Linked DNA regions of Homo sapiens: all the other regions are linked to region 1. Evidence: fine-mapped expression QTL. A gene starts in region 1. Each other region holds a variant in brackets. All regions are shown on one strand. Distances are between the middles of the regions.

Region 1 (4,080 bases):
GTATCTTCATCAAGAACAGCTCCAGAAATACTGCCAGGAACCATTTCCTTCCCTCTCTGCAGATGCAGGTTCCTCTGATAGGCATATCTCCTCTGCTCCTGATTAACACCATATCTAAAGGAAAGTCTCATCACATACCACCCAAAGCATGGCATCAAATGAATTTTTTAAATCCAACATTAGGGTCAACAATGACGCTCTTTATGAAAAGTGTGAGCCCCAACTGCAATTCATCTTCATCTCTCGGTCTTTTGTATCACTTGCCTCATAAACTGGTTAAGAAAGAAGAAAGCTATTACAAAGCATAATCAATGTTTGAAAATAAACATTAAGTGCCCCAACTGGTGAGAAAGACTCCTCCTAAACACTTACAGAAGATGAAGCTTTAACAAGCCCTCCAGAAATCTTTAGAGCCAACACGAAAGAAGTTAAAGTGATCTCACCACTCCTACAGGATGAGGACCCAATACAGTATAAAGATAGCACAGCTCTCCACAACATCCCCTAAGAAGACACTCAATTTTTACTTTAGTATAAGATCAGCCCTTCAGCGGACATATAGGACAAGTTTTTCGGTCCAACACTTACTGTGAATAAACCAACGCATGGAGCTAAAAAAGAACCAGGGAAAAATGGATGTCTCTCTAAAAAGAGCCCAACCTAAGTAAGGAATTACAAGACATCAAAGGTTAGATAATGGACAACAGGTGCCTTTGAGGAGGAAAGAGTAACACAACACTCAGTTGCCTCCTATTTTAGGATTTCCACTCTGAAAGCAATATAACGACAATTTTTTCTGCCCAAGAAAAAGGGAAGGCCAAAATTATAGGTTTTACTATTTAATATCTATAATAGGCCCATTGCTCTTTGACTTACTTTTTTACTTTAGATTTTAAAAATCCATCTCATCTCGATATTATCTGGATATAGTACGGCCTATGGCCAGACTGCTCACTGATCAGTGAACATTAACCAAGTAGAGACTTATTATCAAGAAATGTAAAAGAAAGGCGTCTGAATACAAGCTACCTGCACATAAAAAACTCAAAATACAGTTCCAGCAGTAGGTATCACACAACTGCGTTATCAGCCAAAGCTGAAACTGTTTCTCTCACCATTCTAACAGTTGAACTTAATCTTTTACTAGATTTCAATGGCCTCGAAGAATAGTAATTCCAGATTCAGCTTCTAGGGCAGCGAATACTAGCCTGGAGTTTTGATTTTCCTAGCCAGAAGATTACCTTCATCTGGTGAAAGGAACACTGAAAAGGCACTTCAGCCTATTTAATAACCTCTTCCCTTTCTCCATTCCACAAAGACAACATCTTCCAAAAATGGAGAATCCTTTCCTTCCCTGATAGAGGCCCCCTTTCCTATTGATTCATTGGGCAGAATCACTTCTCCCCAGCATGTATGCAGAACCAGAAAACACTTCTGCTTTCACTCTTAAAGAGGGTCCCCCAACACAGATGCACCTCTTCCTTTCCTGCATTAAGCAAATGATGCTCCGATGCTTCTAGGTCTCTCCACCACTGCAAAATGCTCAGAGAAGTGGAGGGATTGAAAAGGAAGTTGCCTACTACTCTGAAGGATACTGGAAAGTCGCCTTCAAATCTAAAGTGAAGACTTGGGGGCGGGGGATGCCCCCTTCCTGAAGAGGGAATGAGGGTCCCTCCCCTAAAAAGGAGCCTCTGTTCGGGTGAAGGCGATCCCCACCCTGAAAGAGAGGCGTGTATGTGGAAAGGTGGTGGAAGGTTGTACCCTGAAGAGGAGCCTGGATTTGAAGAAATGTCCCAACTCTGAAGGGGGGTAAGTGGAGGGAGCCGTGAGTGTACGGGGAGGGGTGTGCCAGCTATCGGGGGGCCTGAGAAGGAAGGGGTTCCCACTTTGGGGGAACGAGGGCCCCGCACTGAAAGGGGCTCCGGGAGGAAAGGAGGGTCTGACACAGAGGAGAGTTGGACATGGGGGAGGGGCCCTCAGTCCACCGGAGTCCGCGGAGGGGCGGCAGCCTCGAAGGGAACATGTGCAGTGGAGCCGCTGCCACCCCGAGGGGCAGGCGGGAGGGCAGGGCCTGGGCTGTGTGCGGAAGGAAAAAAGTTCCTACCCTTCGCAGAAGACGCAGGACTCCCCAGCCGTACTCACCGAGACTGCCGGCGAAACCGTCCATCTTGCGGGGAAAGCGCCGGGCTCCGGGCTTAGAGGGGCGGGCACTTCATTCAGCGGACCGACAGAGTGGCCGACGCTGAGCCTGACCCGCTCGTTCTCTAGGTCGCCCGGCTCGGCTACCGGCTCCCGCCTCCGTCGTCCGTCCGTTCGCCCTGGGGTAGTAAGCCGCGGCCGCCCGAACCACTTCCCCGTCACGTTGAGAGCCGCGCCGCTCAGCCGCCTGCCCGGCCTCCCTCCCAGGCAGCAGCCGCGAGCGCCGCGCCGCGCCGCGCCCCGCCCCGCCCCCGCGCCCGCGCGCAGCAGTAGCCCCGCCCCGCGCACGCCGTCACACTTCCGACTCCGCCTCCCACGTGACGCCACGGAGGCGGGGTCTTGCCAGCCCCGCCCTCTCACCTTGCCTCGGCCTCGGCGTTTGTCCGCCTCGCGCCAGGCTGGTGGTTGCGCCTGCGCGGTAGGCCTGCTGAAGGCTGGGGACCACGGTTTGGAAGCTGGTTCCAAACAGGTGGGGATAAGGCATAGACTCTGGCCTGCGATACTCTGATGCATGAAGGATCCTCTCCCTATGTGGCCCCTGGGAAGCCCGCAGAGCCAAGACTGGACCCCCGTGACGGGAGATGACCACCACGTGGGTCCTACAAGGACACTAAAGAAGCAACCAAGAGGGAGAGGTTCTCCCTCTCCCCCAATAGGGTGGGGGACAAATAGGGGCGAAGCTTCTTGACTAGCTCGATACCACCACTGCCACAGCCGCAGGGCCCGGGACAGATCAGAAGCAAGGAATTTTAGTGCTGGACATGACCCAAAAGTTCATCTTGTCTAACCCTTCTTATGAAGAAAAACACAGAGCCTTAGAGAGGACAACCTGCCCAAGGTCATCGAACCTAGTAGAAGCAAAAACTCAGCCTTCCTTACTCTCCCTAGCGTTCTGTCGTCTAGGGGTGCAAAACGACCATATATGGCAGGCTATAGGATGGCCTGCTAGGGAACCATAATAAGGGTTATTTCAAATGAAGTAACACTGAGTTCTAGGCCCAACTCCGTATGACTCAAGAGTGTCAAATCACCTAATTTATTTAGGCGTCACTTTATTCATTTGCAAATTGGTTGTCTGGACATGTAACCAAAACATGTAAATATACATAGCGTTCATATTCTTCCTCCCTTCCCCAACACGATTTCCCATACTTCTAAAGACTTTCTCATGGTTTGTCAAGTCCCTCCTGGGGCTCAGTTGTGCAGATTAGAGTAAGAGAGAGAAGAGCTGTAAGGTACTGAAGAACTGAATTGATCTATACATAATAAATTGATAAATACATAATAAAAAGCTGAGTTAGGGGAAAACAGAGTCCTACTACACAGAGTTGCAGGAGAGAGGGACAAACAAGAAGGGAGACAAGAAATATGTAATGATGAGAGAGACTTAGAGGAATTAAATGATTGAAAGGATTGTTAAACCTTCTTGGGGTATACGTCTCCCTTTGTTGCCTCTTTAAAAATCTTCCCTAAAAATGTAAATTACTTTGCATTTCTTATTTGGATATAAGACCTGTTTCTGAATACCATACTATATGGAGACTGGCCATAACGCAGCCAAGATAAATTCAGGTTACAGACTAAACGGTGTCTAAAATTTCCTTCTCTTCAAACTTAAATGATTTACCCAATGTTCCTTCTGCTATGGGCATTTTCATATGCATAAGTTTCTATTAAGCCTAAGTAAATGTTTGAGAAGTTCTCAATTCTGACAGCTGTTCCTTTGTGTCTTCAGGCCACACTCTCTGCCTTAGGTCGATTAAAAGAATAAGAACTTGGCATATTGGTATACATATGTTTTATGGTCCAGACCTGGAAGTGTGTACCTCCCTTTTGTCCACATTCCACTGGCCAGAACTTGGTCACATGACTGCAAGGGAG
Region 2 (4,080 bases), 100 kb before region 1:
TCTTTCTCCTGAAAGTTTCCATTTTAGGAATCCATTTTTTAATCTGTATTTTACAATCTTTAGAACTAAAAAGCCTCCCCCAAACTGGAATTTGAGTTTTATATTTAACTGAAAGGTAGGAGAGTATGATGCTACTTAATTTCTGCAAACAGAAACTTAAAGAATCTTTACTTAATTTGAGCCTTTTTTCTGATACTATCAGTCTCTACTTCCCAAAACCACAGAGTTAAACAAAAGGACAACCAAAATGCTAGAAATATTTACTGTAATTTTATAGTAGAAAGTGACAAGGACCATTTTTGGAAGGCTAAAATCTTTTCTTAAAAAGGTTCTTTATCCAAACAAAAGACTTCAAGTTCCAGTTAATGATCCAGTTATTTTCTGGTTATAATTCAGTATTTTAAAATTCCAATGAAACAATGGAATCTGTAAGCATGTTTGGATTTTGCCCCCTTTCAATGATCTAGCTGTAAAAATAGTTAAATCATAAAATGTAGATAACCAAATAAACTAAAAGGGAATTTAGAAGGGTATAATCTAACTTTCTTATTTCACAGATTTAAAAAATTTTTAGTTCCAGTACTTGCTAAAGATTAGTAGTTTTATTAGCTAGCATAAAACTTGGGTCTGAAAAAATCTGACTAAGTACAAAATGCTACTTTAATTTTTTTCTTCTATTGGCTGATAAAATTTCCTGAATTTTTAATTACATAGTGGGGTGGGGGATGCACAGTGTAAAAGATATGAACCTAACCTCTTAAGAGCTTAGATTGGAGACATAACCATGTCTTGTGCACCTGTTAATCAACTCTTATACTAATTACACTAGCAAGCCAACTTACAGTTACCCACCTTCTTGAACCTAAACTCCTTTAATCAGATTTCTCTTGATGTTTTGTTTACAATTCTGTCATAAAATTACTTGAAAATATCAGACATGAGTTTGCTTAAGCATTTTAGATTATTTTTACTGCTTGAAATGACTTTATTGGGAAAAGATGGAAAAGAAATCTATTTCAACAATATGAGACACATAAAACTGCTAAAAGACTAACTATACTGCTTAAAACTTTTCTGTAGGCAAAATATGGTTTTATTTTTAAAATTCTCCCAACTCATTCACTTATATCCTCAGGAAAAATTATTTAAAGCACTAAATAAATGAAAAAGCTTTTCATTTTATATGAATATACCAAGTTGCACTTAACTTTTTAAAAATAAGAAATTTGAAAAGGAAACTTCAAATGTCAAAATATTTAACACCCTGGCTCTGCTTTCTCAATTAACTATAGCAGGGAGGCAATCAGGAGGCCTCAGCAGAACATTAAAAACCTGTATATAAAAATTCTGATTAAACAGGATTAATGAGAAGTTTCAACTATAATGTTATTTCTTAAAATATGTTTGAAGGCTGTCCAATTTTTTAAAATAGAAACTATCCCAACTTCTAAGAACATGTTCTTGACATCCTCTTTCCTTATTTTCAGCGAAGAAAAAAGCCCCAGCTGCCTTCTCTGGACATCAAGTATATGACTTCATTAGAGAACGTTCTAATCTTATACGTATTTATTGTGGTTAAAGTCTTTTCATTCAAATTACGTGTATTTTTGCTATACACATACTTTTTAAAAAAAATCTAAACTAGAAAATGTAATTAACCAGAAATTTTTCAGTCTTCAAGTCTGCCAGTTAACTGAGTGAAATATTTTCATAGTTAGAAATCTGTGCTGTCCAGGCCGGGCACAGTGGCTCATGTCTGTAATCCCAGCACTTTGGGAGGCCAAGGTGGGCAGATCACCCGAGGTCAGGAGTTTGAGACCAAAACAAATGAAAAAAACCCCTGAATCAAATAAAGCAAAATGTAAAGATCTGATAAATCTGGGTGGTCAGTATACAGGTGCTCACTATATTATTTGAATATATTTTTAGAAACATTAAAATAGTTCACCAAAGTTTAAAAAGCATTATTAAAGGAAAACAATAGAATATTTTTGGTGAAACTGTTCTTTGGAGAATTGTGAGTGTAGTTCAGGGACGTGGCACAGGATTTACTATGCTTTTTCCTTGAAATCTTGGTATATGCCACTGATCAACCGCAACTCTTCCTGGCTACAGCTAATCACAAATTTTAGCATTCTTTTCAAAGTGCTTCTAGAAAACAATAACAATTACTAGAGTAAGAAATACAGTATAGAATATAACTGCCATTTTTGGACAGGGTTTTTTTTTTTTTTTTTTTGAGATGGAGTGCAGTGGTGCGATCTCAGCTCACTGCAAACTCCGCCTCCCGGGTTCAAGCGATTCTCCTGCCTCAGCTTCCCAAGTAGGTGGGGACAACAGACAGGTGCCATCATGCCTGGCAAATTTTTGTATTTTTGTAGAGATGGGGTTTTGCCATGTTGGCCAGGCTGGTCTCAAACTCCTGACCTCAGGTGATCTGCCCACCTTGGC[C/G]TCCCAAAGTGCTGGGATTACAGACATGAGCCACTGTGCCCGGCCTGGACAGCACAGATTTCTAACTATGAAAATATTTCACTCAGTTAACTGGCAGACTTGAAGACTGAAAAATTTCTGGTTAATTACATTTTCTAGTTTAGATTTTTTTAAAAAGTATGTGTATAGCAAAAATACGCGTAATTTGAATGAAAAGACTTTAACCACAATAAATACGTATAAGATTAGAACGTTCTCTAATGAAGTCATATACTTGATGTCCAGAGAAGGCAGTTGGGGCTTTTTTCTTCGCTGAAAATAAGGAAAGAGGATGTCAAGAACATGTTCTTAGAAGTTGGGATAGTTTCTATTTTAAAAAATTGGACAGCCTTCAAACATATTTTAATCTGGAAGACTGCTACTAACCACAACATTATGAAATCAGATCTTTGCTTTATAGGGCTTAAAAAAAAATCTCCAACAGAGGAAAGGTCCCCTTTTTTGGGTCTCCTTTTAAAATACAGATGGCGAGACCAGCGGCCTGGCGGGCCTGCTGTCCTTGGCAGTGCCTTCTCTACCCTCTTAAATAAAATAAATAAAAATACAGAGAATACTTGGACAAAGCCCAGATGTAGGGATCCAAGTTATGGTTATACAGGTTATTAAAAGGGACAGTATGTAAATTTTAGAACTAGCCAGGCACAGTGGCTCATGCCCATAATCCCAGCATTCTGGAAGGCTGAAGCAGACGGATCACTTGAGCCCAGGAGTTCAAGAACAGCCTGGGCAACATGGCGAAACCTTGTCTCTACTAAAAATATAAAACTAGCTGGGCACAGTGGCACATTCCTATGTGCCAGCTACTCTGGGGGCTGAGATGGGAGGATCAACTGAGCCCGGGAGGTCAAGGCTGCAGTGAGCTGTGATCATTCTACAGCATTCCAGCCTGGGCAACACAGTGAGACCCTATCTCAAAAATAAAAAAGAAAATACATAGGTTTTAGAATTAAGTATGTGTCTCCACTGGAAATGCATTGGTCTTCCGTCCTTTCTGTTTATCCACACTCAACAAACTTCTTCCTAAATTCGGGAATTGCCAAGTTTGGGATACCACCTTGGTAAAAAGGAAAGAATCTGTCTGTAGTTCGATTAAAGGCTTTTGACTTTTTTCATTTGTTTCAAACTGCACACTCTCTCAGTAAATGACAATATACACCCTCTCAATAGGTGACACAATATACAGAGTCAGCAGGACACCGCTATTATATATCTTTATCGATAAATTTTAGCTATTCTTTCAGATACAATGCTCAGTTTGCACAGGTGTGAACAGATTTTAGGACTAAATGTGCCTGGAGCCAAAAGGTCAGAAAACATAATGCAAGGCTCTGAACAAAAGCACCTGCATTCAAGCCATCCTCCCACCTCAGCCTCCCAAGTAGCTGGGACTACACGTGTGCCACCACGCCTCGTTAATTTTTTGTATTTTTGGTAGAGATGGGGTTTTGCCATGTTGCCCAGGCTGATCTTGAACTCCTGAGCTCAAGCAATCCACCCACCTTGGCTTCCCAAAATGCTGGGATTATGGGCATGAGCCACCCCACCTAGCCTTTAAGTTCTTCAAAAGGTAGTTCACAAGCAAGTTAGTGA
Region 3 (4,080 bases), 97 kb before region 1:
TTGATGACTTCCTTTTTCCTCAAAATAAGCAGATTTCTTTCCAGTAGAGATCTGAGTCATTCAGTTTCTCAACATGACCAGGTAATTATGTGTTAAATCTAAACAGGCCTAGTTTGAAGTTCTACAAGAGAAAAATTAAATTTAAGATTATTCAAGTCTGAAAAAAACATTTTGAGGACATTCAGATTCTCCTCCAGAAATAATGAGATCATGTGACACTTATTTTCCATCTCTAAAAAATGTAGGCCAGGTGCGGCGGCTCACAGCTATAATCCTAACGCTTTGGGAGGTAGAGATGGGAGGACTGCTTGAGGCTAAAAGTTTGAGACACGCCTGGGAAACACAGTGACACCCTGCCTCTATAAAGTAATACAAAAATTAGCTGGGTGTTGTGGTATGTGCCTGTAGTCTCAGCTACTTGGAAGGCTGAGGCAGGAGGGTCACTCAAGCTCGGAGTTCAAGGCTGCAGTGAGTTATGATCGTGCACTGAACTCCAGCCTCGGTGGCAGAGTGAGACCCTGTCTCTAAATAAATAAATAATAAATTTGAAATGAAATAAATAGTTGGTCCCTTGGTTTCCATGGGACACTGGTTCTAGGATCTCCTGCAGAGAGCAAAATCTGTGGATGCTCAAGTCCTTGATATAAAAGGTATAGTATTTCCATGTAATCTATGACTATCTTCCTGTATACTTTAAATCATCTTTAGATTACTTATTAGTTGTTATATTGTATTGTTTAGGGAATTATGACAAAAAAAAGTTTATACATGTTCACCACAGATGGAACTTTGTTTTCCTTTAATATTTCGAATGCAGGTCGGTTGAATCCAGGAATGTGAAATCCGCAGATATGGAAGGCCAGTTGTACTTGATAACTATTTCAAGGATGACCTTAATGGCAGTATCATTTTGTTTATTAGAAAATTTGTCAAATTGTTATCTATTTTCCACAATAAGCAATTTTATACATGGTGCCTGAAGTCCCCCAACTTAGCTTGGAAAATTTTTTAAAATCAGTAACTCACCAAAGTGAATATTATTGTACTACAACCTAACTGCTACCTCTAACAATAGATAGTCCTACATGGAACTTATTCAAATTTTAAGTTGACATGCTAGGACTTTATCTCTGCTGTATCTGGAGCACAACCCAGCAGAACTAGGGGAGAGAGTAATGAAAAAAAGTTTAGGTTTCAGGGTATAAACATATAGGTCAGTAAGAGCCTCTTTTTAGTGGCATAACCTGCCCTTCCTCTCACACCTAACCTCAGAGATTGCCCTGCGTACATCTCATTTCACTTTCTATTGCTTTCAACAACCAGTTTCCTGACTTCTGCCTAAGTGGTGACTGGAATATGCAGCTTTCTAGCTTTTCTCCTACTCTGCTCTGTCTGAAGGACACAGGCCTTTCAGGTAAAGTATTCTCTGTTACCACTCACCTAAATGTACCATATGTAAATAGGCTTCTTCTCAAATCAAAGCAGATGATTTGGAACAAGCCACAGCTATCATTGTCAAAAAGAGGCTAAATTAATGTCATATTTTAAAAAGAATGTCAAAAAATGACAAATATTAGCATTAATAGCTGAAATACTAGAAAATGTGTTGTGAATATGCCATGCAAAATGAATACCACACTTCTAAAATAGCTATACAACTTACAGTCAATGACTCTCACCTATTTAATAATTATCTTTTCATCTGATAATACAAATCTGAGTGCAAGGTTTTACTGCCAAATTCATATATTAATAACTAAAACTTACCTGGTATTATATGTCAGGTACTGGGTACACTTTATTACTATAATTTTTACAGTAACCCTTTAATGGCTTATTATTATCTCAGTTACAGATGAGAAAACAAAGACTTAGGGAGGTTGAAGTAACCTGCTCAATGTCACTATAGCTAAGTCAATGGTAAAACCACTCTCTGGACTCCAAAATCCATGTGTTTAAACATCTACATGACATTGTTTGCTATACATCTCTACATGTAGGTTAAGTTTTATAGACAACTCAAATGCAATTGTCCAAAGCCAAACTCCTTTTCCACACATCTCCTTCTCCTCAAATGTTCCCTATTTCAGTAGATGCCACTA[T/C]ATTTCAATTTATATTTCATATATATTATTTCATCCTTCAGTAGTCATGTGAAATAAGCTTTATAGTTACTATATTTAGAGTAGAAAACCACTCAGAGACATTGTCATTCAGCCTAGGTCATAAGGCTATTATGCATAAGAGCCAGGACCAACCACTAAACACAGTTATTCCCCATTCACTGCTCTTCCTATCACATACCGCCGACTCTATTTAAAAAAAAAAAAAAAAGTTTTCGGACCAGAAGTGGTGGCTCACGCCTGTAATCCCAACACTTTGGGAGGCTGAGGCAGGAGGACTGCTTGAGCCCAGGAGTTTGAGACCAACCTAGGCAACAAAGTGAGACCCCATCTCTATGATAAATACAAAAATCAGCCAGGTATGTGGTGCGCGCCTGTAGTCCCAGCTACTTGGGAGGCTTCAGTGAGAGGACTGCTTGAGCCCAGGAGGCCAAGGCTGCAGTGAGCCAAGGCAGTGACTGCACTCCAGCCGGGGCAACAGAGCAAGACCCTCTCTCTTAAAAGTTTTGATATATAATGTATTAAGAATTATCTTCATAAATAAAATTTCATTTTTCCCTTTAAAGTATCTCAAACATTACTTAATCTATGTTGTATTATAAAGAAGGGAGAAAGTAAGACCTACTAAAGAAGAATGCCAGCAAAATTCAACTTCATTTAGAATGTCTATGTAAAAACAAATGACCTAAAGACTATTACAAATATTTCTTTCTTTTCTTTTTGGAACGAAAGAAGTAAAAATCCACAGAAATCAAGTTAAATCTCTAAAAAAAGCTTTAACCACGTTGCAGCTGGTTACTATAATAGAACAGAAAATAAGGCTAACTATGAAACATAGAAATGAGCTGTGAAAACCATGCACAGAAAGGACGTGCTTTCATTAAGAACAGCATGCTTCAATTAAATTTGCAGGCAATCTAAAGAGAATGTAAAACTGATGTATAAAACTTACCTACAGTGCAATTAAATTAAATACGCATTCGCCAAAAGTCTGCTCTCTTTTTTTGGTCTGAACAAGCCAACAACAGCAAGTAGCCAGAAGTTACAATCAATATAAAAGAAAAACTTAAGAGGAAATGGATTTGCTAGACTCATCATATTTTCAGTCTTAGCATCAAGAAATGAGTGATTATTTGCAATGAAGTTGGCAAGACAGGAAACTGAGTTAAAATTTATCAATCGTTTATTTCTAGGTAAAACTTTTTTTTAAGGGAGAAAACTCCCTCTAGTATTTTATCCCTTTTTGTAATACTGTATTTTTACTGTTCACCTTGAATCTTCAGATTTCTTAGAAATAAGATGGATTTTTAAAAATGCAGCCGGGCCAAGTGTGGTGGCTCATGCCTATAATCCCAGCATTTTGGGGGGCTGAGGCGGGAGGACTGCTTGAGGTCAGGAGTTTGAGACCAGCCTGGCCAACACGGTGAAACTCCATCTTTACTAAAAATACAAAAATTGGCCGGGTGCCATGGCTCATGCGTGTAATCCCTGCACTTTGGGAGGCTGAGGCGGGCTGATCACCTGAGGTCAGGAGTTTGCAGCCAGCCCGGCCAACATGGTGAAACCCCGTCTCTACTAAAAATACAAAACAAACAAACAAAAAACACCAAAAATTAGCCGGGTGTGGTGGTGCCTATAGTCCCCAGCTACCTGGGAGGCACAAGAATCACTTGACCCCAGGAGGTGGAGATTGCAGTAAGCCGAGATTGCACCACTGCATTCCACCCTGGGCAACAGAATGAGACTCGGTCTCAAAAAAAAAAGTAAAATGTAGCTGGATTCATCTAGCTCAAATCACTGTATTTCCTTTTTAAGGAAGAAAGTCAGGCAGCATAAATAATAAAAAGCCAAATAAGAGATCCAGGAAAAAATTCACTTAGAAGGCAACCAACTGCGTAGCTTATTCTTACCTTGGCTGTTTTTTTCGCGAGTTGACATTTTTGCTGGTTGAGACAAAAAT
Region 4 (4,080 bases), 110 kb before region 1:
CAAGACTCCGTCTCAAAAAAAAAAAGAAAAAAAGAAAAAAAAAAGGTGGAGTCAGGATTCTAATCCAGGCAAATCTGCTCCGGATACTTTTGCTTTTAGTATTACTAATCTTCATTCCTGAGAAAATAACACATTTTATCAATGTCCAATAAACTGCTAAACAGCCCTTAAATAGCATTTGAAACTGGAAGGGGTCTTAGAAGTTATCCAGTAGAAACCTTCTACTCCTTTTCTTTAAAGAAACTGAAGCCTGAGAATGTCATGAGTATAGTCATACATACGTTACTCAGTCACCATTAATAGTCACTGTTGATCCTTAGAAATAAGGTATTTGTTATACAAACCAACTGAATAATATTAAATAGTAACTGTAACTCTTTAAGTTGTATCAGTTCTAGTCACACATAAAATCAAGAGTTAGCCGGGCATGGTGGCACACACCTGTAGTCCAGCTACTCACTCAAGAGGCCAAGGCTGGAGGATCACTTGAGCCCAGGAGTTTGAGCCCAGCCTGGGCAACGAAGTGAGATTCCACCCCTATAATTAATTAATTAATTAATTAAGAAAGTAAATAAGAATCAACAGGTTCATCAACTAAGGGAAACTGCAGTACCTTCCCGCAGACACTGGTTACTTTATATGTTATTTTATATAAAGAAAATGTAACGAGCGTATCAGTTTTCCCATTTTTACAGTAAATAGCTTCTTAAGGGAGAACACTTATTTTTTAAAAACAAAATTTATTAGTATGACTCTGTCTTTTAAAGTGTTCTTATATCCTAATGTTTTTTCCATGCTTATACTAGAAATTCCTCAGTACTTAAATTTTAAAAGAATAAAACAAATGAGTTGTGGTTAAAATTACAATAGATTCCACTCTAACAGCAATGTCTCTAGGTACAGAAGGCATAACACTATGCCACTCACCCTTCCATCTTTATCCACGCCAGCTATCTGTCCAGTTGCAATCCTAATTTTGTCAGGATGTATAGCAAGGCTAAAAAGCAGTATTAAGAATGATTTTAAACACAGGAAACATGAAACAACAGAATACCTTTGTACTGACATTTTTCAAATAAGCAGTTTTTAATCGTTAAAAAACATACGTTTATCTGTTTTCTTCAGCAAATCAAACAATCATCAAATATCTGAAGATTTCTGAATTTTCAGCTGTACTTTTTACTTGTTAAGCTGCACAGATTAATGAAACACTAAGTTCAAAGAAAATATTTATAACTGTGGCATGCTAACGAACTGTTTTCATTTGCTGAAGTTCCTTTCTAGTCCACGCACAATGGCATACAAATCACACGACTTTATTATAGTGAAGATGCAATATTGTGCTGTTTAATTTTAATCTATTAAAGTACAAGCATTTTTTCCTTTTGCTACATAATCCTCATACATGCTGACTTGACAACTCTTCCATCTTTTAGGCCATTTCTTACTTTTCAACAAAAGAAAACAGCAATGAGCATCTTCACACATAGTGCTTTCAATCTTTTAATTAGTTCTTAGCGCTAAATTCTTGTAAGTCAAACTGAGGCAAGGAATTTTTAAATAGAAATGGGAAGTAGCGTAGCATATGTGCCTAAATTACTCACAGCACGTATATGAGTGACTAGCAAATTTCTGAAAAAGACATCTTTATGTCCATATCTAGACTCTTTCAACAACGGTTGTACACTGTGAACATTCTCTTGCTCTTAAATATTTGTACTTAAGAACACATCAGAGGGATATTTACATATTAATACATAAAGTGCTTCCTCATTCTTTACAGCTACATGGTGACCTATAGGTACACTACAACCTCACCAGTAGTCCCCAACTGAAAAATACTTAGGCTGTTTCTAATCTTCATCACAAACAATGCTGCAGTAAATAGTTTTGTACATACATTATTCTGCAAGTGTAAAAGGCAATATTTTAATCAACTCCA[A/G]AAGTTCAATATCTATATAATATTATAATAGTCATCTATTAATTTTTTTCTGGATAAAGATACAGGTGCCAGCATAGTACAGACATAAAAGCTTTTAAATGTTGGAAAACATCCAGTCAGTCCTTGGATCTAAGTGGGGAAAAGGGTAATAAATAAAAAATAAAAGTTGGAAAATATTAATAAACAATAAATAATTGCATTTAACTAAAAAGTAACAAAATAATTTAAAAGCATTTAAAAGGAGTTCTCACATTTGTAGTATGACATCCTACGGCATACTTATGATCCTTATTCAGCTAGATTTCTTTCTTCCCAAAAGAATAAAGCTTCAAGTATAAAATTTATCTACATAGGACAAATCCTCAATAAATATCGAGTAACCAATAATCACTTTCAGAAACCTGAAAATGTCCAGTCTGTCCCATATATGTTTCACACTACAGACCAGAGAAGAGAAGGACTGTACGACATGAGAAAGCAGAAGAGGTTCCAATCATGATTTATGGAGGATGTGTTTTGTTGCTGCTGATACCACACCACCATTTTGGAGGCCGAAAGTCCTTTTTTTCTTTTTAAAATATATTCAACAGATGACCCATAATATTTTTACATTCTGAGCTTTCCACAAGAAATCACTTTCAATAAAACCCAAATTTAAAAAATACAAAATGAGGGCCTGAAAGAACAAAAATGAACCAATGTTAAATGATACCAACCATTTCACACAGTCTGTATGGCCCAGGTAGTGTCGCTGAGTTCTCTCCTCATAATTAAATAGTACTACTACTGATGCAATGAAATAAACTATTTTCCCGGTCGGAAGAAGGTAAACATTAGCTCTACAGTCCTTTCCTCGATAACCATATCTTAACAGAAAAAGAGTCAAGGTTTTAAATAAACACAGTTTTCAAGTTGTTAACAGATTTTTCATGGATACTTAAGGAATTAGGAAGGTACAATGAAGAAGACTGAACTAGAACTAGAAAACTCATGTCCTGGACGGGCAGAGTGCTCACACGTGTAATCCTAGCCCTTCAGGAGGCCAAGGTGGGAGGATCACTTCAGTCCAGGAGTTTGAGAGTAGTGCGGGCAATAGTGAGACCCCATCTCGACAGAAAATAAAAAAAATTAGCCAGGCATGGTGGCCTGTGCCTGTAGTTCCAGCTACTTGGGAGTCTGAGGTGGGAGAATCACTTGAGCCCAGGAGGTCAGGTCAAGGCTACAGTGAGCAGTGATCGTGCCACTGCACTCCAGCCTGGGCCACAGAGACCCTGTTGCCGCCCACCCCCACCCCTCCACCAAAAAAAAGGAAAACTCATATCCTGCCATTATCCCTAGCGTAACCTGACTCTTTCAGTATGTTAAGATCTTAGTTTCCTCATTTACCAGACAAATATGTATTGAAATCCTAATGTGTATCAGGCATAATGGTGAACATTCAGTTCTGAACAAAAAAAATGTAGGCCCTATGTCTCTAGAGCTTATCCTCTGGCAAAGAAAAAAAAAAATCACCAAATATAAAATTACAAATCGTGGGGGGGTAAAAAAAAGACTGCTAGGAGAAAGCCCAAATGGAGGACCTAATTTAGATGGAGAGAAAAAGAGAGAGAAGGGAGGGACCAAAAGAAGGCCTATCTGGAAAAGGGATATTTATGCTGGACCTAAATGATAAATAAGTAATAGCAAGGAACAGTTTGGTAGGCAGAATGTTTGTTAAAAATATGTTGTACAGAATGAAAGGATTGGTGAGTGTGTCCAAGCTGATATCTGCCTAAGAAGGGAATAATTCAAGGGACGTGGGAGGAAGTGCAGGAGAATGGAGGCAGACAACAGAGTTCAAACTACCAACTCCTTCTGTTTCACTGAGTTTCTTGGAGGTTCTAAAAGAAGTGAAAATTTCTAGGTGAAATTAGGAAAGCTCTCCTTTAACAGTCATTTAAAAAAAAGTCTGGCTGAAAAGTTAATTCTGAATTAGAATCAGCCTTGTTAATTTGAGGTTACAAAATGCTTAACTGATGTTTTCTTATTTAATTCCTACAACAGCCCCTGTGAGGTATGGGTTATTAATTAACCCCTTTTATAAGTAAAGAAAGTTAAGGTTCACGGAGAGTAAGTGGCAGGGCCAAAACTCAAACACT
Region 5 (4,000 bases), 180 kb before region 1:
TGGGCAGGTAATTTCAAAGGGTTATTTGCCTCATCTCCTATCTTTAGTGAAATCTTATGTGTAATTATTCCACCGTGGGAACAGAGAATACCTGTTTAGTGTTGCACTTTAGACTGGTGTCTGTTTTGTTAATGCAGCTGTGCCACAAATTCTCCTTTATCTTTTAAAAATGTTATAGCTTTAAATTTTGATTTATTTTGACTGTGGAATAAATACATGAATGAAAAATTTTAAGTTTGAAGTTCTTTGAATGACCTTTCAGAGTAATTTCAGAACACCAGCAGCATCTTAAACCTGAGTCTAATTTCTTTCTTGTTAATTAGGCACCAGATAATCTTTATAAAATGGTTCTTAAAAGTCTAGTAATAGGAGTCTTAATGGCATATTGATGATTACCACATGGTTTTTTATAAAAACCTGCCTGCCCCTTAGTGAAAGGTACCTGTAACTCACAGTTCATTTAGACACTAATTTCCTTTGCTGTCATGATTGGTAGACTTCACTTACCCTATATTAATTTTGAAAAAAGGTGGAATTTTATTATATATGAAGGAATAGTTTGTATCTTACCATAGCACAGAACAGTGACCTCTTGCTCAGGATAAGATGTGGTGATTTGAAAATACTCAATAGTAGCCTTGCAGTGATATCTCTCTCTCTCTCTCTCTGCAAATCTAAATTTTATTCTCTGGTATTTCCTCCAAGTTTTTATTTTGAAAATTTTCAGACTACAGAAGGACTAAGCATAGTACAATATACACCTGTATATCCTTCACTTAGATCACCAGTTATCAATATATTGGCACCTTTGCTTTTTCTTGTTCTCTCACACAGGCACACACAATGCATATATGCACACACACATAGATCTGTTTTTTGTTGAGTCATTTAAGATTGTTAGGGAATTATGATAAATCAGCCATAGTACTTTAGCAGGTATCTTCTGAGTAAGGACATGTGTTCCTTTATAACCATAATGCAGTTGTCAGACTCAATAAAGTTAACATTTATAACAATACTACCATCTAATACATAGTTTACTTTCAGATTTCCCCAGGTGTTCTAATAATGAGTTCTTCATAGTTGTGTTTTTAAAAAATAACAGCTTTATTGGGATATAATTTACATACTGTACAGTTCACCTCAAGTGTACAATTCATTGGTTTTTACTGTATTTGGAGTTGTACAGCCACCATGAGAATCAATTTTAGAACACTTATATCACCCTAAAAAGAAACCCCATACCCATTAGCAATCACTTGCCTTCCCTCCCACCATCCCAACTCCCACCTCCTAGCCCAAAGCAAGCACTCATCTACTTTCAGTCTCTATGGATTTGTCTTTCCTGGACATTTCATATAAATATAATCATATGATGTGTGATGTACGTGACTGGCTTCTCTCAGTGTCATGTTTTTAAGGCTCATCCATGTTGTGGCATGAATCGATACTCTATTATCTGAATAGTATTCAATCGAATGGGTATACCACATTTTGTTTATCTATGGTTGGACATTTGGGTTCTTTCCACTTTGGGGCTGTTACGAATAATGCTGCTATGAGCAATAGTGAACATATGTTTACATGGACATATGTTTTCATTTCTCTTGGGTATCTACCTAGGAGTGGAATTCCTGGGTCATATGGTAACTCTGTTTAACATTTTGAGGAACTGCCAGACTGTTTCCAACTCAGTTGTACCATTTAACATTCTCACCAGCACATGCAGTTCCTTTTTGTTTTTGTTTTGGGTCCAGGATCCAGCAAAGGATCATACATTGCATTTAGTTGTTGTCACTTTTTTTTTTCTTTTGAGATGGAGTCTTGCTCTGTCTCCAGGCTGGAGAGCAGTGACGTGATCTTGGCTCACTGCAATCTCCGCCTCTCACGTTCAAGCAATTCTTTTGAGTCAGCCTCCCGAGTAACTAGGACTACAGGTGCACACCACCATGCCCAGCTAATTGTTTGTAATTTTAGTAGAGATGGGGTTTCACCATGTAGGCCAAGATGGTCTCGATTTTCTGACCTCATGATCTGCCCGCCTCAGCC[T/C]CCTAAAGTGCTGGGATTACAGGCGTGAGTCACCGTGCCCAGCATGTTGTGACTGTTTAGTCTCTTTTTATCCAGAATAGTCAGTCCCCAGTGCCCTTCCTGATAGTGACCTATTTGAAGAGTCCAGGCAAGTTGTTTTGTAGGACATTCCTTAACTTGGATTTGTCTGATTGTCTCATTGGTGGTTTCAGGTTAAACATTTTTGTCAGGAATTTTTTATAGGTGATATGGTGTCCTCGTTATGTCAGGTGGCACTTGATACCAGTTTGTCCCATTATTGGTGATTTGAAGTTGTGTCTGCCGGATTTCTCCCTTGTCAAGTTGATACCCTTTCCCCTTTGCAGTTAATAAGTAGCCTGAGGGGCGATATTTGAGACTAGGAATATCGTGTCCTCAGCAGTTTGCACTCTGTTCATTGGTCATTCTTGACTGAATTATTACTAAGGTAGTTGTAAACTGATTTTTTCTGTTGTCATTCCTTCTACATTTTTGATATTTCTTCTGTGAAGATGAGCCTTTAAAGAAATTTGATGGAATTTCCTGATTTGATGTATAGTAAGCATTTCTGCCATTATTGATTTTGATGCTGAAATGTGGCTTCTGTGTTCTTTGAGCATCTCCTATCAGTCTTTGATCACCTCCCTACCTTGTGACAGACAAGATGGCTTCCATGCTGACCTTGTGTTTTCCTTACCTCAGTTTCCTCTGTTTATTATGATATATTCTATGAACATATATAGATGCATTTTCTTTTTTTTTGAGATGGAGTTTCGCTCTTGTTGCCCAGGCTGGAGTGCAATGGCGCCATCTCGGCTCACCGCAGCCTCTGCTTTCTGGGTTCAAGCAGTTCTCCTGCCTCAGCCTCCCGAGTAGCTGGAATTACTGGCATGCGCCACCATACCTGGCTAATTTTGTATTTTTAGTAGAGACGGGGTTTCTCCGGGTTGGTCAGGCTGGTCTTGAACTCCTGACCTCAGGTGATCCACGTGCCTTGGCCTCCCAAAGTGTTGGGATTACAGGTGTGAGCCACCACGCCCGGCCAACGCATTTTCTTTGCCTGTTTTATTTTTGCCTAAATGGTAGTTAGTATACCTTCCAAATCTCACTTGTAGCTTAGAGATTGTTCTGTCTCATTTTTCTATATTGGATTTTATTTTATGAATGTACCATAGTTTAGTCTCTTTTTGAAGGGTATTCAGTTTCAAATTTTTTGCTTTTATAAATATGACTTTAATGCATAATCTTTAGCTGTCATTTAATACAATGTTGGATATATTTCTAGGATCATTTCTAGACGTGAGATTTAGGAGGTGAGGGGGATGTGCATTTCCAATTTCAATAGTGCTAATTACTAAAAAAAAAAAAAAAAAAAAGGTGCTGGTTTACATTCCTATCTAGCAGTGTTGAGAGTGCCTGTTTCTTTTTACCTTTGTCTACATAAAATATTACCAAACTTTTTGATCTTTGCCAGTCCTCTAAGTGATAACATTTCTTTGTGGTTTAAATTGCCTTACTAGGCCGGGCGCCATGGCTCACGCCTATAATCCCAGCATGTTGGGAGGCTGAGGTGGCAGATCACTTCAGCTTAGGAGTTCAAGACCAGCCTGGGCAACATGGTGAAACCTTGTCTCTACAAAAATACAAAAAGGGCTGAGGCAGGAGAATCGCTTGAGCCCAGGAGGTCAAGGCTGCAGTGAGCTGAGATTGCGCCACTGCATTTCAGCCTGGGCGACAGAGCAAAAGCCAATCTCTAAAGAATTTTTAAAAAAAAGTACTCTGGAGATAAATGGGCAAAGTACATGAATAGATAGCTCATAAAAAAAGGAAATATAATTTAACTTTAAAAAGAATAAAACATTTTTTTAAAAAAGATATTCAACATCACTAATTATAATAAAAAGCTAATTTCCTTTTTTTTTTTGAGACAGGGTCTCACTCCGTCGCCCAGACT
Region 6 (4,080 bases), 59 kb before region 1:
GACGGGGGTGAAGAGAGTGTCTGCAAAGCTGACAGTGGTGTTTTTATTTAAATGTAAGAGTAATAGATTTACAGGGTTGAGGGAAGGAACCAACAGAGTTATTTATACTAACACGTAAGGACATGGAGCAGAGCTCCAGCGTTAGAGATGTGAAGGGCTAAAATAGAAAAAACAAGACAAAGAATGAGCCTTTTCTGAGAAGAGATACTTTTATCTAAGAATGAAGGGAAGAAGATGAGAGGAGGTGAAGATATTTGTCTTTCTACCTAATTTTTCTGTAAAGCAGGAGACACAGTGCCCTGCTGAGAAGACCTGGTTAAAGAGCTTGAGCTGGCTGGGCACGGTGGCTCACGCCTGTAATCCCAGCACTTTCGGAGGCTGAGGTGGAGGGATCGCCTGAGGTCAGGAGTTTGAGACCAGCCTGGCCAACATGACAAAACCCCATCTCTACTAAAAATAAAAAATTAGCTGGGGATGGTGGCACACACCTGTAGTCCCAGCTACTAGGGAGGCTGAGGCAGGAGAATCACTTGAACCTGGGAGGCGGAGGTTACAGTGAGCCAAGATTGCAACACTGTACTCTAGCCTGTGCAACAGTAAAAGACTCTGTCTCAAAAAAATAAATAAATAAAATAAAAAATAAGAGGTTGAGCTAATAGGTAAGTGTGGAATTGTATATACCACACAACTCATAATATTGTAGGATATTGTTAATTATCTTTTAATAAAGTTACATTTAAAATTCCTAACTAGATTGTAAAACCCTCTGGGGAAGAAGCTATTTTTCATTTTCCTCTACACCTGCAAAGCATCACACTTTGCAATAACTCTCCAAACAGTGGTTGATTTGTTGTGGTTGTGCTTCAGAATAAGCAGCAAAGACAGGATAAAACAGGGAATGAAAAAAAGACACTTATTAGTTTGGTGACATGCATAGGACTAGGGGTTGCTTTAGAAGATAAGAACCCCCTTTATTAGAAGTTTCGTGTAGCTGAGGGGGAATCTGGAAGAAGCAAATTTAGCCAATAATTGCATGATAGAAAAGATCGGTATCTCTCTCCTCTTCCCTCACCATCTAGTATTTCTTCCTTTTTATGGTTTTTTTCTTTCTCTGAATATCCCCTTTCCTTTCTTGTACCTGGATTTTGAGGCTATCTATCTTCCTGCCCTCCTTTCCCCTCTGCCAGGATATGACCAAAATTAAGTATATTTTTGTTATTCCTATCAGTTTTAGAGATTTAGCCCAACCAAGAGGTCAGATGTTCTCGCATTAGTGGGCCTCAACCAAGACTCTAGATTTATTTTGCTAGAGTTTTCCTCTTACTATTTTTTATAAGCAAATGAGCTAAATGCTTTTATTTCTTACCCAAGAAAAAAAATCTACTTTACTTCCCTCCCTGATTCCTCTGACAAACTCAGTATTTACATGTATTTAGCCCTAAACTCACTCACTCACATTTCTTTTATTTTTCTCTCTCGTGGTGAATGGGTGACTCTTGCAAGACAGTTATCTGTCTTGCTTTATGAAAAAATTCTCTACCATTTAATATTTTACTAACATAACTGTTCCTGGAATACAAAGTTCATGTGTAAGCTAAAAACTTACTTAATATGCATATGGTGCTTAAGAGCACAGTGCTGGATTTAGACTGTCTGGGATTTAAAAACTGGCTTCATCATTTAGTAACTATATACCCAGGCAAGTTTCTTAACTTCTTCATGCCTCAGATTCTCCATCTTTAAAATGAAGCTAAGAACATCTAGATGACATATAAAGTTATAGAAAATTAAATTAGATAAATTAAACAGCATGTAAAAACAACAAATAGTGAAATTTTCCTTTTTATAAATGTTAGCTACTACTATAATCATCATAAGATTCCAATACAAAGGTCTGCTAAACCCACACCTAGATCACCTTAATCCTTAAGGATGAGTAACATTTGCAGTCAGGTACCTAGGGTACACGATCAAAGTTTTACTAAAACTTAGTTTCTAATACATTAGCAGAAAGAGATACTATATTTTACTGATTTGTTTACTCACTAAATTTCATTTAATCATCAG[A/G]AAATTAAAAATGGACTAAATTGGAATTAGCAGGAGACAGTGAAAACAACACAAAGATATATGTTATTTATTTGATAATCATTTTTAACATTAAGTGACCTTCTAATTATTAATACATACCATGCATTGTTAGGATTTAAATAAGACTGTTTCCTAACCCTAGCAAGCATTGTGGGGGAGAGAAGAAGGTAAATAAATAAATAAAATAAAGTACAATACAACACTTGTCCTGACAGATATATACAGAAAATTGTAGAACTCACAGAAAGTCAGTCAATTTTTACCAGGAGAGAAAAGAATGAAAGCCTGGTCTCTGGAGCAAGTTATTTCTCTGTTAAAAGCAAAATACTCATGAGAAATTTTTTAAAGCAGTGCCATTTTAAGAGCTCACTATGTAGGCCTATAAAACATTACAAGCAAAGCTATACCTTCTGAATTATAAGACTACAGCTATATTCCAAATGATATAAGTATTGAATACTAAATTTTAAATGACAAGCTCTAAGAACATGATGTTTTAGCCTATTTCAAATAAAAAAGAAGGCAGAGAAAGACCCAGAGGAAATCTATCAATCAACCACAAGCTATATCAGCAAAACTCATCAACTTCATTCCTAAAACTATGTCGATCCTTGAGCAATGTAGGGGTTAGGGGTGCTGACCACCCACTCATTTTTCTATGAGGAGAATTCTTTCTACTCTCTTAGCAATTTTCAAGTATATAAATCCATGTATACTTTTTTTTTTTTTGAGACAGAGTCTCTCCCTGTCACCCAGGCTGGAGTGCAGTGGCATAATCTTGGCTCACTGCAACCTTGGCCTCCCAGGCTCAAGCAATTCTCATACCTCAGCCTCCTGAGTAGCTGGGATTATAGGTGCGTGACACCATGTCCAGCTAATTTTTTGTATTTTTTGTAGAGATGGGGTTTCACCATGTTGGCCAGGCTGCTTCTGTACTCCTGACCTCAAGTAATCCGCCCACCTTGGCCTCCCAAAGTGTTGGGATTACAGGTGTGAGCCACTGTGCCCGGCCTATGTATAATTTTTGACTCCCTACAAACTTAACTATTAATAGCCTGCGGTTGACCGGAAGCCTTACTGATAACAAACAGTTGATTAACACATATTTTGTATGTTATATATATTCTATAGTTTTATAAGGTGATATGTTAAAAAAATCATGAGAAAATATATTCACTATTCATTAAGTGGAAATGGATGTTCATAAAAGTCTTCAGCTTTGCTGTTTTCATGCTGCATAGGCAGAGGAGGAGGAAGGGGGCGGGGTTGTTCTTGCTGCCTTAGGGGTGGCAGAGGCAGCAGAAAATCCTTATATAAGTGGACCCACACAGTTCAAACCTGTGTTGTTCAAGGGTCAACTGTATTTGAAGGGCATATATATTGCAATATGTCACACAAAATTGAGTTGCTGGACCAGAAGCAAATTTAAAGTTTTTCTTTGTGGAAGAGGGGTGGTTTAAAAAAAAAAAAAAAAAAGCCTTAACAGGCTCATATTAATTTTGAAAGCAGGTAGGATGTAATTCTTTAAAAAAATAAGAATGGAGGCTGGGCACAGTGGTTCATGCCAGTAATCCCAGCACTTTGCGGGGCTGAGGTGGGAGCATTGCTTGAGGCCAGCATGAGCAACATAGTGAGAACCCCATCTCTACAAAATTAAAAATTAAAAAAAACCAGGTGTATGCCAGTAGTCTCAGCCAGCTACTTGGGGCAGGCTGTGGGGGCTGAGGTGGAAGGATCTCTTGAATCTGGGAGGTCAAGGCTGCAGTGAGCCACAACTGTGCCACTGCACTCCAGCTGGGCAACAGAGCGAGATCTTACCTCAAGGGGAAAAAAAAAGAAAAAGAATGAACATCATTTCACATGCACATAAAACTGAAAGTGGAAAAAAGTCTGGATTAAACAAGTTCAGTACAAGGCTCAACAAAATCTTGCTTTCCTTTTGAGAGGATTCCCTTTGTTGAATTTCATGGAAATTTTGTGGGATACTGCTAC
Region 7 (4,080 bases), 160 kb before region 1:
TAGAACAACCACCTATAATGGATTATTTTCCTAATGCACATAGCATAAAGAAATGTTCAGATCTATGATCAGGCTGGAGAACCCAATTTTCAGAAGGCAGAGATAAATTGTTAAAGAGAAAATATTAATTTTTGTGTATTGCTTTAGGTATTGGTGCCACATCCATATCCAGTATTTTAATTACCTGAGCATAACACTTCTTTTTAATTCTTTGCAAATAACGCTTTATTATTTTAACTTTTCCATCTATCTTCTAACCCTTTCAGAAGGATACCTAAATACTGAGGAAGGCTTAGAAAACAGTCATAGAGGTCGGATTTCCAGAAAGTTACAAAACGTCAGATTAGGAAGAAGCCCCACATAGTTATCTTTATATAATTCTCCTAAAAATGCCTTTGTATTTCAACAAGTGGTGTAAGGCAACTAGACATCCACACGCAAAATAATAATAAAATACACTGACAAGGACATGGAGGAACCAGAACCCTCGTACACTGCTGGTGGAAATGTAAATGTAGTCACTGTGGAAAACAGTCTGGCAGTTGCTCAAAAGAGTAAACATACAGTTACCATTTGACTCAGCAATTCTACTCCTAGGTAAATACCCAAGAGAAATGAAAACATGTCTACACAAAAACCTGCACATGACTGTTCACAGCAGTGGTATTCATAATAGCTGAAAAGTAGAAACAGCCCAAGTGTCCATCAGCTGATGAATGAATTAACAAAATGTCATCTATCCATACAATGGGATATTACTCAGCCATAAAAAGAGTAAAGTACTGATGTATGCTACAACGTGGATAAACCTTGAAAACGTTATGCTAAATCACAGAAGCTAGTCTCAGTGGATCAAATATTGTATGATTCCCCTTATATAAACTATACAGAAAAGGCAAATCAATAACAGATTAGTGGTTGCTGGGGGGTGGGGTAGAGGATAAGAGAGATGGGGTAACTGTTAATGGGTACAGAGTTTCTTTGTGGGGTAATGAAAATGTTCTAAAATTAGACCTTGATGGTCACACAACTAAGTATACAAAAACCACTGAATTTTACACTTTATTTATTTATGAGCTGGAGTCTCACTCTGTCACCCAGGCTGGAGTGCAGTGGCACAATCTCAGCTCACTGCAGCCTCTGCCTCCCAGGTTCAAGCAGTTCTCCTGCCTCAGCCTCCCACGTAACTGGGATTACAGGTGCACGTCACCACGCCCAGCTAATTTTTGTATTTTTAGCAGAGACAGGGTTTCACCATGTTGGCCAGGCTGGTCTCGAACTCCTGAACTCAGGTGATTTGCCCACCTCGGCCTCCCAAAGTGCTAGAATTACAGGTGTGAGCCACTGCGCCCAGCCTGAATTTTACACTTTAGGTGAATTGTATGGCATGTATCTCAAGCTATTTAAAAATGCCTTTCCAAATTTAATAACTTCAATTTTCACTTAAAGAAAAACGGGAAGGTAATCTGTACTACTATGTAAATTCCTTGTCTTTCATATTAAGGACCAAAAGTGCTTGATTCTGCAAAATACAAATCCCATGTTGGTTCAATCCTAATACATTTAATTTCTCTGAGGCTGACATTAATAGTGATAAAGCTAAAGAATACACAGACTATTTTTCATTTATAAATTTAAGCAAGTAAATATTATATATAAAAAACCCACAAACCACTTCTTTACATCAGGTGTCATTTCCTTACCAAATACTTGAAATCCTAGCACACAGGTATATGTCGTCCAATCAATGTCCTTACAATCCGATCGATTCCTGATTAGTTTGCAGCCATTTGGAATGTCCCCTTTAAATTTAGAAACAGGAAGTATAATCATAGTGCTTGTGTACAAATGTATTTGAAAGTGCATCTTGATTCAAACTAGCCACGTTTACTTGTATTTATAATCCATACACTGAAAAACATTAAGACACATTTAAAAAGGAAAAGAAAGTGTTCACTTTAACAGGGTTTATAAAACTACAAACTGTTTCCCATGGAAGTTTTTTTTTTCCTCTAAAAAGCATAAATGCCCATCTATCATATTCCTCCCTGCCTCCAGGAGAAGTAATTAAATGAAAAACCATT[C/T]AGAGCAGCATCAATTTGACAGAGTAATTTCTTATTACTATATGTGCCTTCTGTTCTACACTATTAACATTAATTCATTACTCTTGGAGAAGTGAATCACATTTGAGATTCTCATTACCTTAGCTCAGCATAACATATGCTTTGTCAGGTTAAAGAGGTTGGCAAGCATTCTCTGCACAATTCAGATTCCATGCAGCCTGTTCATTAGCGCCCCTGACAGACACATCTTAGCATATATATATATATATATATATATATATATATATATAAATATAATCATAGCATATATATATATATATAAAATCATTCATACTTACAGTACAATATTTCATAGTCTCCCGAGTTAGACATTATATACTTGTTGTCTGGGGACCAGTCAAGGTGTGTGATGTAGCTGGAATGTCCCTAGAAAATAACAGATAAATTGTTAGAAAGCATTTAGAGTTCTGAATGATAAACAGTTCAACAGCTAGCCAATACTGTTTCTGAATACACATTTGTTGGAATTTCTAAAGGAGAGGAAGCAGTGTCACACCCTCTAAAACTGAGCAGGCTCACAGCAAATCCTCAGCACTTGAAACCTGGGAGAAACTTTCTGGCCTATCTAGATACCAGAAACTAGCACCTACTACCTGTATTAGACACTTCCAAGAAAGACAGTCTCTTAAACTTGTATCTTACAGGACATTGCAACACATACCACACCCTCTGGCCTTATTTCACGTCACTGGTGTCCCCATGAGAGTGACTCCATTTTTGAGAATGAAGTGTTGGTTATAAGTTGTGCATAAGGCATCAGGAATACAGTTTTCCTGGGCTACTTCTGAATTATCCATGGTACAACTCAGAAGCTGAGGAATACAGCACCCGTATATGGTCTATGGAGGTATCCTAGAAAGACTATCTCTAAAGAATGTTTTGGGGAAAATTCACCCAACGCTGTACTCCATCAGAACAGTAGGTCTCAATAAAATCATGATTCCTTAAAACATTCCTTAAGCAGGAAACAACGATCTTTTTCTGCTTAGGTTTTCACACTGTGGGAATTAAAACAAAAAAACTACGAAACACTAATTTTTGTTGGCTTCACGTATAAGCACTTAAGCATTTCCAATAAACTATTTCAGATAAATTACACAGATCTTATGGTTCACCAAAGCTGACAGAGACTTGAATTTGCTTTTACCTCCTACAGTCTGTGGTCAAACACATTTAATTTCTACTGTGCTTTTTCAATTACTAACTTTTTTTTTGAGACAGGGTCTCACTCTGTTGCCAAGGCTGGAGTACAATGGTGCTATCATGGCTCACTGCAGCCTTGACCCCACTGGGCTCAGGTGATCCTTCCACTTCTCAGCCTCCTGGATAGCTGGGACTACAGGCACATGCCATCACTCCCAGCTAATTTTTGTATTTTCTGCAGAGACAAGGTTTCACCACATCGCCGAGGCTGGTCTTGAACTCCCAGGCTCAAGCGATCCTCCAGCCTCAGCCTCCCAAAGTGCTGGGACTACTGGCATGAGCCACTGTATCCGGTCAATTACTAGCTTTCTGGTCACATGATTTTATTCTTTTTATTTTGAGACAGAGTCTCTGTTGCCCAGTCTGGAGTGCAGTGGCACAATCTCAGCTCACTGCAATCTCCACCTCTCAGGTTCAAATGATTCTCATGCCTCAGCCTCCTGAGTAGCTGGGAATACAGGTGTGCACCACCATCCCAGCTAATTTTTTCTATTTTTAGTACAGACGGGGTTTCCCTGTGTTGGCCAGGCTGGTCTCGAACTCCTGGCCTCAAGTGATATGCCCACCTCAGCCTCCCAAAGTGCTGGGATTACAGGTGTGAGCCACTGCACCTGGCCTTTATTTTTTTTCACCTATTCTTTTCTTCCTCTAAGACTTTTTCTTTTTCTTTTCTTTTTTTTTTAATTGAGACAGAGTCTCACTCGTTCACCCAGGCTGGAGTGCAGTGGCATAATCTTGGCTCACTGCAACCTCC

Direction of the effects. Alleles are on the strand shown, and positions count from the first base shown. SD is a standard deviation of normalised expression in the study named. Not every link is listed here.
With allele T in place of C in region 7, the expression in testis of the gene that starts at base 2,426 in region 1 is higher (small effect, 0.36 SD a copy in GTEx).

The links. PIP is the estimated chance that this variant, and not a neighbour inherited with it, causes the effect.
Region 2: its variant is fine-mapped to the expression of EML4 in sun-exposed skin (GTEx, PIP above 0.99).
Region 3: its variant is fine-mapped to the expression of EML4 in whole blood (INTERVAL, PIP 0.97).
Region 4: its variant is fine-mapped to the expression of EML4 in whole blood (TOPMed, PIP above 0.99). The same link has a PIP of 0.9 or more in blood mononuclear cells.
Region 5: its variant is fine-mapped to the expression of EML4 in whole blood (INTERVAL, PIP 0.98).
Region 6: its variant is fine-mapped to the expression of EML4 in subcutaneous fat (GTEx, PIP 0.99).
Region 7: its variant is fine-mapped to the expression of EML4 in testis (GTEx, PIP 0.91).

What each region holds. Positions count from the first base shown.
Region 1 is chr2:42,167,699-42,171,778 of GRCh38, reverse strand. It overlaps EML4 (EMAP like 4), which reads right to left and starts at 2,426. Exons shown (of 23, transcript NM_019063.5): 1 at 2,143-2,426. The coding sequence starts at 2,167. It overlaps EML4-AS1 (EML4 antisense RNA 1), which reads left to right and starts at 1,548. Exons shown (of 4, transcript NR_110584.1): 1 at 1,548-1,809. RefSeq lists silencers at 2,415-2,474, 2,575-2,624 and enhancers at 2,040-2,692, 2,705-2,844.
Region 2 is chr2:42,270,237-42,274,316 of GRCh38, reverse strand. All of the region lies in intron 6 of EML4 (EMAP like 4), which reads right to left. Among named protein-coding and RNA genes, the nearest start is that of COX7A2L, 89 kb to the left of the region's middle. The variant C/G (reference allele first, on the strand shown) is at 2,452.
Region 3 is chr2:42,264,902-42,268,981 of GRCh38, reverse strand. The region is part of intron 6 of EML4 (EMAP like 4); the gene reads right to left. Among named protein-coding and RNA genes, the nearest start is that of COX7A2L, 94 kb to the left of the region's middle. The variant T/C (reference allele first, on the strand shown) is at 2,103.
Region 4 is chr2:42,281,551-42,285,630 of GRCh38, reverse strand. It overlaps EML4 (EMAP like 4), which reads right to left. Exons shown (of 23, transcript NM_019063.5): 8 at 2,659-2,808; 9 at 928-997. Among named protein-coding and RNA genes, the nearest start is that of COX7A2L, 78 kb to the left of the region's middle. The variant A/G (reference allele first, on the strand shown) is at 1,943.
Region 5 is chr2:42,346,730-42,350,729 of GRCh38, reverse strand. COX7A2L (cytochrome c oxidase subunit 7A2 like) reads left to right here. Exons shown (of 3, transcript NM_004718.4): 3 at 1-1,392. Among named protein-coding and RNA genes, the nearest start is that of COX7A2L, 12 kb to the left of the region's middle. The variant T/C (reference allele first, on the strand shown) is at 2,050.
Region 6 is chr2:42,226,958-42,231,037 of GRCh38, reverse strand. All of the region lies in intron 1 of EML4 (EMAP like 4), which reads right to left. Among named protein-coding and RNA genes, the nearest start is that of EML4-AS1, 59 kb to the right of the region's middle. The variant A/G (reference allele first, on the strand shown) is at 2,068.
Region 7 is chr2:42,323,876-42,327,955 of GRCh38, reverse strand. It overlaps EML4 (EMAP like 4), which reads right to left. Exons shown (of 23, transcript NM_019063.5): 20 at 2,402-2,489; 21 at 1,704-1,802. Among named protein-coding and RNA genes, the nearest start is that of COX7A2L, 35 kb to the left of the region's middle. The variant C/T (reference allele first, on the strand shown) is at 2,085.